Homo sapiens: one gene and its partners. The protein of the gene in region 3 purifies or fractionates together with the protein of the main gene of each other region. This does not show direct contact. Each region holds a gene or a part of one and is shown on either strand. Other genes may lie near its edges.

The links.
Region 1: the proteins of RAI2 (region 3) and SLC2A9 purify together in Homo sapiens (affinity purification with mass spectrometry; one large-scale study listed by BioGRID and IntAct). This does not show direct contact.
Region 2: the proteins of RAI2 (region 3) and CRYGS purify together in Homo sapiens (affinity purification with mass spectrometry; one large-scale study listed by BioGRID and IntAct). This does not show direct contact.

What each region holds. Positions count from the first base shown.
Region 1 is NC_000004.12:9,993,924-9,997,575, forward strand, and holds part of SLC2A9 (solute carrier family 2, facilitated glucose transporter member 9), read right to left. Parts: intron 3,019-3,652; coding exon 2,858-3,018; intron 603-2,857; exon of another isoform or gene 438-602; intron 1-437. UniProt on the Homo sapiens protein: High-capacity urate transporter, which may play a role in the urate reabsorption by proximal tubules. May have a residual high-affinity, low-capacity glucose and fructose transporter activity. Transports urate at rates 45- to 60-fold faster than glucose.
Region 2 is NC_000003.12:186,541,533-186,545,779, forward strand, and holds the start of CRYGS (gamma-crystallin S), read right to left. Parts: upstream 2,849-4,247; 5' UTR 2,795-2,848; coding exon 2,774-2,794; intron 1-2,773. UniProt on the Homo sapiens protein: Crystallins are the dominant structural components of the vertebrate eye lens.
Region 3 is NC_000023.11:17,851,184-17,854,835, reverse strand, and holds part of RAI2 (retinoic acid-induced protein 2), read left to right. Parts: intron 1-3,652.

The DNA of each region.
Region 1 (3,652 bases), on a different chromosome or scaffold from region 3:
GCCCCACTGCTGGAGCAGCCAGTGACCAGCCCCATCGGAACTCTTCCCCACTTCCCTGGAATGTCTCCCCCAGCTATACCTTTGAGCACCTTCCACTGGGCCTCCCAGGCTGCCATTGCAGTTTCCTCTCCCTCCCTGAGAATCCCCATGGGAGAGGAATAACAGAGCATCAGGAAGGCGTTTCAAATAGCATCATGTCACAGGAAGAGTGTTGGCCTGTGGTCAAACACATGCAGATCTGAACTTCAGTTCAACTCCATTTTGAAACCTTGGTCCAATTGACCACTGGGTCTTGGACTCATCATTTGAAAAGTGCAGGTAATGATGCAAACATGGAGTTTTAAGAAGTAAATGATATATGGGATGTCAAGGACAAGGCAGGAGGTCAATAGATGGTAGCTTTCTTTTTCAATTTTTGCTCCTTTTCTCCCCAGCAGAGTTGCTCTTCAAGCTGAAACTTCAGCCCAAATCAACTTTTACTCTCATAATGATGAAAAGGAAACTGGCAGCTGCTTGGGGCATAACAACCAACACATCCTTTGATCTGATCTTTTTCTGCATCCTCACTTCTTTATGACTCCTCCATTACTTAGAGATTGAAGGTATTTTCAAAGTTGTTTTCTCTTTTGCTTTCCTTTTCCTTTTTTTTTTTTTTTTTTGTTGCCATGCCAGTGAGGGTAGTAAAGCTACTTTCATTGCCCTCATTTTATAGGTAAGAATAATGCTGGCTGAGAAGTGAGGTGTCAAAGTCCCTTGTAACACACCTGATACACAGCAGAGTCAGGACTTGCTGAGCCACGGCATTCTGACCCGATTCTAGTGTTCCTTTTCCTATTCCATCTGCATGGGTTCAGAGCCTCCTTGAGGAGCAGCCTTGGGGTATAAATGCCACGGTCAGGTATAAAGCAAGGAGACATCACAGGCCAGATCCTGGGGCATGGGGAGTGACTCCATCCCACTAGGACAAGCAAGAGGACCATGGGCAGGGTCTGGCTTGGGCAGGAGGCTTAGTGACCATGCCTCAGGGACCCTGGCCAGTGATGCCAATCTGAGTGCCAGCCTGTTGTCAAACAGTCATGGTTTTACAGTACATTCCCAGCATTGGGAATTGGCCCCTAACTAAGATCTGCTTGGCATAGTGGAAAGATCATGATTCCAGCCTAAGCTCAGCCACAGTGCAAGCTAGCTAAGCTTGTGCAGATGCCCTCACCTCTCTAACCTCCCATTCCCCATCTACAGACCCCACAGCAGATAGAAAATTAAACAAGAGAATGTGTGAGTGGCTGGAACCTTGAAGGACCTCAGACAATGGCATCTCTCACTACATCATGCAGTAGTTGTATTTCCAGGCCCTGAATTCCCATTAATTACTGCTCTGAAAGTGGGCTTGGGGACAAGGAAAATGTCAGCACCTCCCCTACCTCACAGGTATCACAGACCCTCATAAGCACCACTTGGATGTTTTCAGGGTGGCTTCCTGTCCCATCTTTTAGAAATCTTGCTTTGAAACATCGTCAACTCTAGTTTTCTCCTTGTTGGGCTGTGAGGAAGAATGTAAAGGATTCGGTCATTTCAGATTGTGAAATGGGCTCCTTCTTAATCGGGTTTCTGTAATCCCATGGTCTGAGGAGATTTTCTGGAGTCTGATAAATCTCCTCTTCAACTCACGTCAATGCAATAAGGAGGTTAGTCGAGTACTTACTAGGTAGTGATGTCAAGGTGATGATGAGGGAAATGCCAAATAATGTGGTCAATGACAAGAATTTTTATTTATTCAGCTACAACTCATGGCCATTCTCCTTCCATTCATTTGGTCTAACTCTTGTAACATTCCCTGCAGGTAGAAACTATCATCCCTATTTTACAGATAAGAAAATTGAGGCTCAAATAAATTAAATGATTTGGCCAAGGGCACACAGCTAGTAAGTGGAAGACACATGATTCAAGTTAAGACACGAATGTTCTGGCCCCATCAGATTGATGTGACGACTCCTCCATCACTTGGAGAAGCTCTACTCTTTCCACACACTGCTCACTGGCTCCCAGGATGCTGTTGTTATGAACAAGAATACAGAGAAAGCATTGTTTGTGGGGATTCATTGATAAGTCAATCTGCTCTGAGAGAAGGATTCCTGTCTAAAATAAGTGAGGAATGAGGCTCACAAGGTCAAGTGAGCTGATTGGAGAGGGCCTGGGTAGGAAAGGCTGATATGAAGTTTTTGATTCTCACTGCTTCCTTATTTGTAATGTAAATGATCTGAAATGACCTAAATGTCTCTCAGTCAGGGAGTGTGGCTAAATAAATGATGAGACAGCCATATAGTGGAAGACTGTCTAAGCAGTCAATTTTCTGGAAAAGCAGATCTGTATGTACTTACGTGGAACAATTTCCAAGGCACTGCACTGTGTTTTCCATTTGCCCCAACACCCAGATCAATTCCCCTCCCCTCCCTGCTCTGCTCTATGCCCCGGGAGCATCTCCTGGATGGCAACATGACTTCCTGGTTTACTGGCTTTCACATGGGTGTGACCAGTGTGCACCTCTGCAGCAGGATGGAGGGTGGGAGGAGGGAGGGGTCAGGGCATTTCTTCCCTGCTCCTCCCCCATGTGGGTGCTGTGGCTCTGACACAGCCCAGTCCCTATACGCTTCTGCTGCTGCTCATCAGCCTGCAGTCCATGGCTTCAGTTATCTTTGGACCTTGGTCTCTGATTTCTTCCCCTTTCCCCTTTGGGCATTTGAATCTCTCCAGTTGAACTGCCTGAGTGGAGTTCTGTTGCCTGTCAGGACCCTGACAATGACACAGATATATTATGAACATGGAGGGCACCCCCAGATAGAGACAGCCTCCTACTGACCTCCCAAGAACCTTTCCAATCATCTTCACAATTAACGTCCCCACAAGTCCACCGATGGCGAATATGGACACAGTCACAGACCAGAGCAAAGTCAGAGTGTCTGGGTCTATTGGACGTCCATGCCTTCTTTCCCATGACTCATTGTAAAAGGCCTTGATGTACTGAAAATAAACAACAAACCATGTTATTTCCTTCTGTTCTCTCCTGCTGCTTGAAGCAAGCCAGTGTACAAAACAAAACAGCTTGTACAGAGCATTTTCATGCATAGCACTTTGCTAATTTGTTTGAGCTTTATCTCATTGGCCTCTTCTAACAAATTTTGGGAAGAGCAGAAGATGTTAATCTTTATTATATTCAAATGAGCATTTTTTTTCTTTTATGGCTAGTTTTTTTGTGTTTCTTGCATCTTTGCCTATCCCAAGGTACTTTTTTTGTAACAAAATGTTTCCTCTTTTTACCTCATTTTGGAGATAGGGAAACTGAGGCTCAGGGAGACAAAGTGACTTGCTAGGTAAGTGCTAAACCTGGGAGCTGGACTCAGATCTGACCCCAAGCTTATGATGAGCTTCATAGCTGGGCTTCTCCAATTCTAGTGCACCGCAGCATTGCTGTGGAGGTGTGTTAAAGGGCACATACCGGGTGGGCGCAGAGGCCCACACCTGTAATCCCAGCACTCTGGGAGGCTGAGATGGGTGGGTCACTTGAGGCCAGGAGTTCGAGATCAGTCTGGCCAAGATGGTGAAACCCTGTCTCTACTAAAAATACAAAAATTTGCCAGGTGTGGTGGCATGCACC
Region 2 (4,247 bases), on a different chromosome or scaffold from region 3:
ACCTTTCTCTACAGCTCTTCATTGGCAAAACAGGATGATAGTGTCTCTTGCAGACGGTATGCTCTGAGGGTCCAAGGGGATGTTGATAAAGTACTTAGTTGAATAGCTGACTCATGATTAGCAATAAGCTTTTGCTACAGTTTTTACAGATGAAGAAGTTAAGTGATTGGCCTAATGTCACTACCTAGTTACAAGTTAGTTGCAGACAAGCTGGTGGGCTGCAGTGCAAAACTCCTGGTGAGTAAACTATTGTTCACTTTATTTTCCTTTGCTGTCTTTCTGCCTGCCCAGTTAGCTTCGTTTAACATGGCAGCACTTACTCTCTTGGACAATGACCAAGGCTGGGCCTAAGCCTCAGGGGCTCTTCCTCATGACCTGTGGAGAGATCTTTAGGAAAGTCAAATAACTTCTCTAAGAATGGATAGATTCTAAACTCCTTAATTCATATGTTCTATTTGCCTTTGGTTTTTGACCAAACAAGTCACTAAAAAGAGCCTTTGCAAAAGATATCCTATGGGAAATGAAGTTAATAATACCATCTATTTCACTTCATAGTTTCTCACATTTACTGCCTTCTGCACATTTGCGTGACTAATTATCAATATCTGCTAAGTAAAAAGATACATGATGCCTGATACGGTCACCTGATGTCCACCCTCCCAGGAGACCAGCCAACCATCCAAAAGTTGAAACAAAGCCCTCATCCTGTTGCTATGGAATCATTACTGAGCTCCAAGACTAAGCTCTCCTTTCAGTGGGAGACCTTCTATATCTCAGAGCCAGAGAATGTTGCACCTAGCTGTGCTCAATTTCTTTTTGTAGAATAACCATGAAATCCATGCTATTGTCAGCCTAGAGGTTTTGACCTTTGGGCAAAATATTTTGTAGAGAAGGCTAAAGAAATGTGCAGAAAGTTTTCCTAGAAATTATTACAAAATTCCTATCATTATCAGGTTTATTTTTGGAAAAATGGCCTACTAATCCAATGCAGCAGAGAGAAAAATATCTTGAGTATCCCAGAAGTAATGAAAACATACTTAGTAAAATCTATTCCTTTTGCCAAGCCCATAACTCCTCTGATTAAACTGCTATCAAGATAGTGGGAAAGGAAGAAGCAATGAGAAAAAGTAAGAAATAATTTACTATCTCCTTTACCCTAGCAAGCAAAAGTTATTTAACTAAATGAACGACTCATCTATAAATAAAAAAGAGTACACTATTACTACTCTGCAAATCTTTAAAAGCAGATGTTTTCATCTAAGATGGTTGTAGAACAGCTTTACCTCAAGATACATGGATATCCCTCCTCTAAGGACCAAAAATTCTTTTTTAGTGGGATTTGCATGGTATATTTTCAAGAACCTCAGAGCACTGAAGACACTAATTTTTCTCCCCAAACCTCCTGAATGACAAGCATGATTATTAGTTCTATTTTCCAATGAAAAAAAAATCAAGCACTAATAAATTACAGAACAAGTTAACAGGTACCTTCTGACCTGATGCAACAGGAAGTACACAACATTGCCTATGTAGCTTTCTTGCCAAATATATTTATTCTGAATCTAAACATGAGGAAACAATTAGACAAATCTAGATTGCAAGACTTTCTAAAAGACATCTAACCTAGGCTTTGAAAAATGTCTCAAGAACAACAACAAAAAGGGTAGAGGGACATTTTTAGAGAGGCTAAAAAAAACTAAAGAGAATAAAGAGACATGACAACCAATTACAATACATGTTTTTCACTGGATCCTGTATTAGGGGAAAAGTCCACCATGAAGCACTTTTCTGGGGACAATCAGGGGAGATTTGAATATGGTCTCAATATTAGCTATTATATTTATGATAACTCTTGGGGACATGCTAGTGATACAGTGTTTATACAGGGAAATGCCCTTGTTTTTAGGAGATACATGCCTAAATACTTAAGGCAAAAGTATAATAAAATCTGCTACTAATTTTCAAATGGTTTAATAAAGAGAGATGGAAATAGGAGAGACCAAATATGGCAAAATGTCAACAACTGGAGAATATAAGTGAAAGATATACAAATATTCATTCAACATTTCTTTGCCATTCTTTGAGGATTCAATGGGTTTGAAAATTTTCAAATAGCTGGGGGTAAAAATCAGGCAGCAGTTTTGTCTCATCAGTGGAAGCGCAAAAAAGAAAATGAAAGCATATTCCCTCATTCCCAAAGCCCTACCTGAAAGAATAATTTCCAATCCAGTAATTGTGAGTTAAATATTTTAGAGGCAATTTTCTGACTGTAAGGGAGCACTTTATTTGAGGAACGAGTAAAAATAATTGCTTGAATGGAAGAGAGATGTAGGACTTTATTCACCTGATTGGCCCATCCACTTTGGCCTTTTAGAACACAAATGGTTGAGGCTAAATTTCAGAAAACAAAATTTTAATTGATTATTAAAAGTTTTCTGCTCAATATAATCCCCATTAGCATGCCTTATTCCTATGGAGAATATCAGTTGCATAGAATATTAGTTGCTAGAAGGCAGAAATAATAATGATATTTATAAATTACCTGTATAGTATTTAACATAGCACCATACATAAAGATAAACCCTTAATAAAGTGTTCGGTAATTCTGTTAAGGGTGGAAAATATAATAAGCATTTCTTAATCTTCTCTCTCAATCCCAGTTCTCTAACCACTATCATACTCACCTCTAGGCAAAGAAGCAAAAGCTTTTCTGTGTGTTGAATGCATCATTAGGTGAAAAGCGGGTAGGCTAAAAATCAATATGACTACTTACCTTGGTTCCAGTTTTAGACATTTTTGGTGCATAGACTGGTTTTCCCAGTGCTGAAAGAAATTCAGGAATGGCTACAGAGAGTTAGAGGCACAGTGACATTTATATGGGCTGGTTTCAGTCAAACATTTGCTTAGTCATGAGAATAGGATCCAAAAATTGAGTCAGTCATTTAGACGCTATTGATGGTTTCTAGAAAAAACAACTGGGATTATAAAATAAAGGAAAGCTTCAGTACCGCCTTTAATGCTTACCAAGCAGGGCTGCATTACAGACTTTGCTGAGTCAAGAAACCAAAACCCAGACAAAGTTGTAAAAATTAAGAACAAAAGAGTCTCTCTTTTTTTTTTTAAGCAGCCTCTTTGAAATTCCTAATGTCCTTTTTCTTCAACAAAGCTTGTGAGAGGTAAGAGTCAGAAGACTACCTCTATTTCTGGACAGAAGTGACATGTTCTAAACGCAACAAAACTTACATGACAACTAAATGCAATGCATGATCTTGTGTTTGGGGAAAAAAGTCACTATAAAGACACTGCTGGGACAATCAGAAAACATTTTAATATGGACTGTAAATTAGATAATACTATTGTACCAAAGTTTAACTTCTTGAATTTGATCATTGTACTATGACTAGGTAAGAGTATGTCTGTTTCCAGGACATGTATGCTACCATTTAGAAGAAAGGTTCAAGATGTCTGCAACCTATTCTCAAATTGTTGAGCAAAAATAAAACAATACTATCATGTTGAGTGGTAAAGAGAATGTAGCAAAATGTTAACAACTGGTGAATGGAATCTAGATAAAGGGTATGTTAAAGTTCACTGACTTATTCTTGCAACTATTATTTAATTTTTTTCAAAACACAATTTTTTTTAAAAAAAGAGCTCTAATCCATAAGAAGGGTGCCACCGTATGTAGAAAAGTGACTGTGGGACTCCTGAATTTGCCAAGGGTTAGCTAACTAAACACAACAAGCTACTGGCTAGGTGGTCTTCTTTGCCCACAATACAACATTGGAACATGATCGGAGAACATTTTTTGGCCCTAATACACCTCTGACTTTAGGAATGAGATTGCATCTTATGTAAATACAAAAAAACCCAATAAATTAACTTTTCTCCATTTTTAACTTTAACTGATCAAGTATATTCTCAAAATCAAGTATATTCTCAAAAGTCAAACTTCCTCATCTTTCTGTTAACAAAACTAACAAATATTTTAATAAATGGGATGTATTATGGTCAATTCAGAAAATGGCAAATGTGCCTTAATATAAAGATTATTGAGAAAATATTAAGCTATATGCTTGGTTTTCTGAATTTTATAAAATTTTATAAAACTTTAAAACTTTAAAAAAAGTATCTGAGTACCATTTATTTCATTAACAAATAGCAATATCTAAAATATATTTCTATTACTCCAGTGTTTATTTGGTAATGGTCTGCTCCTTGAATTTCATCTTAAAATAAAAACCATG
Region 3 (3,652 bases):
TTTGTTTCACATGGCAGAAGCAGACTGTTTACTGGAGCACAGGAAGAATCCGACATTCTGGCGAAAAATAATTCATTAACAGCCAGGGTATTACCAGTTCCCTGGAAAAGCTCCTCCAGCTGCACTGTAGCAACTGTTCTTTTTCAGCAGCAGAATCGGGCCGTGCTGGCAGCCAAGACTGGGTGTGTTTGGGCGTTTTTATTGTTGTTGTTATTTTTGCCTTTGTGTGTATGGCCACTTTTCCCTTATAATTCAGAGAAAGAAATGGAGGCCTGGAAGGGTTGAAATGGTGTAGCTGTCAGCCATTCTTTCCTTCGTGCTTTAAGCCTGGAAGCTCCAGGCTGACTGTATGAACATAGGTTTTTCCTGATCAAAGCCCATCCCCAAAGTGGGGGCACTGCAGAACCACATAGAATGTTCTAGGATGAAAGGAATTTTAGGGAACTGAAACACCTGTTCTTAAGATTCTCTGAAAGCAATTGGCTGAAGAATCCCTCCCCACCCCCGTATGCACAACCAGGCAGAAAGTCCTATCTTGGCCGTGTGGAATTCTTTTGCTTACTATTAATTGGCACAATGGGGCCAAAGTATGTGATTCATCATCCTAGTTTTGAGGGCATTTGGAAAGCCAGGCAAGCATAACCAAGAGAATGGGCTGCATGTTTTGCTCACTAAGGAATGATTGAATCTACAGTAAATACAAGGAAAGATTCAGGAAGCTTTTTGTGCTCTGGAAAAATATGTCTTTTTAAAAAAATAAGGTTTTTGTCTGCCTGTTTGTTTTTTAATGCCTCATGCTCAGAAGTGTGTGCCCAGCTAGCAAAAAACGGGAAAGAATAGCATTTCCTTGTTTTAGTTTTTTTAAAACTCTAATTGCAGTTTAGGTAAGATACAGTGTATTGATTTTGGTTTTGTATGGAACATAACTAGATAATCATTTTATTTTATGAGATATTAATTTCCACCCATTTAGACTGATGAAATATGCATTTAAAATATCCCATACCTACCCCCACCATCATCACAATATTTCTTTAATGTTCCTAGATTCAGATGGAGAACCTATTTCATTTATATGGAAAAGGAGTAAATATGTTAGTCAACATATATGTAAACCTGCCTTAGATTTTGAAAAAAATGGGATCCTTTCCCTTTTTTTAAAAAAAAAATGAATGTTAAAGGCCAAGCATATTTGGCTTTATCTGGAGCATGGTTTCTTCACCTTGGCCCTGTTGACATTTTAGACCAGAGAATTGTTTGTTGCAGGGGACTGTCCCATGCACCTTAAGATGTTCAGCAGTATCCCTGGCCTCCACCCACTAGATACCGTTAACACCACATCCTCCTACCCTAGACCTTGCCAAATGTCCCCTCTGGGACAAAATTAGCCCTGTTGAAGACCACTTGTCTAGACCAAAATTTAATAAGTACTTTGTGTTTTTTTGGAAAATTCCATTTGACATAATAAAAGACACAATTTTCCCCCTCTGACTTTTATAAATACAATTCATGGGCATGATTAATTAACGGTTGGAAGTGGGTCATGTGCGTGATTTAATTCTAAGGTTGGTGGAAGGGTCTATAAGATTGTATAAGCATAGAGACTTTTTCAAGGCAGGCAATTTTATAAGTCATAGGTGATTGGGGGGCACATTGTAAGAACTAGTGGCTTCTCTGGTTTTTCATAAAGAGAACAGGTTTATTCCTCCCTAATTTCTTTTTCATATGCACCTGATTCCAGGCATGACTTCAAAGTCAGCAGGCATCTTCCCCCACCCCCAGCCCCTCCCCACTGTCATTTCTCCGGTAGCATCTTAAGCCCGAGCCAATTGATTTAGCCATTTAGTGTACTTGTGAGAGCTCTGCTCGTAATATTGTAATGGACTCATTTCAGATTGTAGCAGCCCTTTACCCACCACTAAATTCCATGTTTTCCAGTACTATTGAGAGAGAAAGTCAACAGTACTTTCTCGGTAGATGGATCATTTTTCGTAATGATTGAAATTCAGGTAGCCCCCATCACCCCTGGCAATTTTGTTTCCTTTTACACACATTTGTTTCCTTGAAGCAATTCTCCTTCAGGCAGCTAGCACCTGGTAATGCCTACAGGCAGCAACAGCAGATGAAATGTTGCCACCAGGACAAGCCCTCAGCCATATTCTTTCTGGTAGTCCCTTGAAAGGCTAGAAAGGAGGGTCATGCCTTACACAAGGAAGGTGTCATGCGGGCAAACCATGCCCTGCCCATACATGGAAATGGAATGGGTGTTTGGGGGGCAGGGAGAGGGCAGAGAAGTGGATCACTCATTATACAGGGAAAGTGTTCCCCAGTTAGCCCTCCCCTGCCAGCCTCTGAGAGTGATATGGGAGCAGGGGATGCTGGTGAAGGATAGGGGCAGTTGTTCAGTGCAGAAGTCAACATAGGCCACTTCATTTTGCAGCCATCCAAGGTAGGCTGACCTTTTCCAAAGAGTGTCATGTGTAGGATTCCCTTGCATACTAGCCAGTGAGGAAAAATGGAAAGGTGAGCATTGAGGGATTTGGCAAGCCAGCGACACTTCATTGGTGAGTTCCAGCATCTCTTGAAGAGTAGTTGAAGTCTTCCTTGTCGCCATGAAGAGAGAGGCAACAAGCTGGTAGGGATCCACAGTGTGCTGGGCTCAGGCGGATAAATAATTGATTTGTAGCACGTGACACTTGGACATTCTAAGTTGCCAGTCCGTTGCAGGCCAGGATTCAGGTGATGGTTGCAACACTGGGAGAGGAAATAGGATCATAAATCTGGGCGTTGGAGGCCAGTTTCGTGGTGCAGAGGCCACTGGGGCCACCGCTGTGTGTGCAGAAGCAAACAGACAGATCTGAGTGGTATGTTGTTCCTCAAAATAATGGCAATGGAAATGGCTGTGAAAAACATTTAGGAACTTGTCATAAAAATGCAAACAGTCTTCCTTCTATAGGGAAAAGCTAAATAAACCCTATTGCAGCTGTATTAAGTAGAAACAGATTTGAAAATCGGGTGTTTTTTTTGTTTTGTTTTGTTTCTGAGACACTTATTTATAGCAGGTTGGGCAGAGGCTGCCACTATCTTTCGAGACTCCGGAAGAGTGTTTTCCAGATGGTCCTTGCTGTTTTTCTCTTTATTAAGCTTAGCTAAACAGTGCTGTGCTTGGAAAGGGTCATAGAAACCAGTGTTACTTTTTTTCAGATTACAATGGTCATTGATTGGCTAGCAATCAATGGATGGGAATGGATTGAGCCTGTGCCGATGAATTTCCTATTGCATTTTATAAACAAGAAAAATGTCAAGGAAAGCACAGAATAGGGATACTCTTTCGACTATGCACATCAAAGCTTTGAAAACCATACAGAGTTACATTTCCTATTAATTTCCATTTAAATTTTGTTCTAAAATAATGCTCCCCTCTTTGTGAAAGCTCTACAATGTTACCGTTTCCTTTCCAACATCTAAACAATGTCCAGATCCATTTCAGATTGAGCAATTAGCTCTGGATGCAATTTCCTTTTATGAAAAAAAGAATCACTAGCCCTCTAGACCAAATATAAAATTATTGAATGTGAAAATATCAATATGGGGCCATTTGTTCTAAGATCCTTTTTGGTCTATCACTGGCATTTTAAGAAGGTTAGAAAAG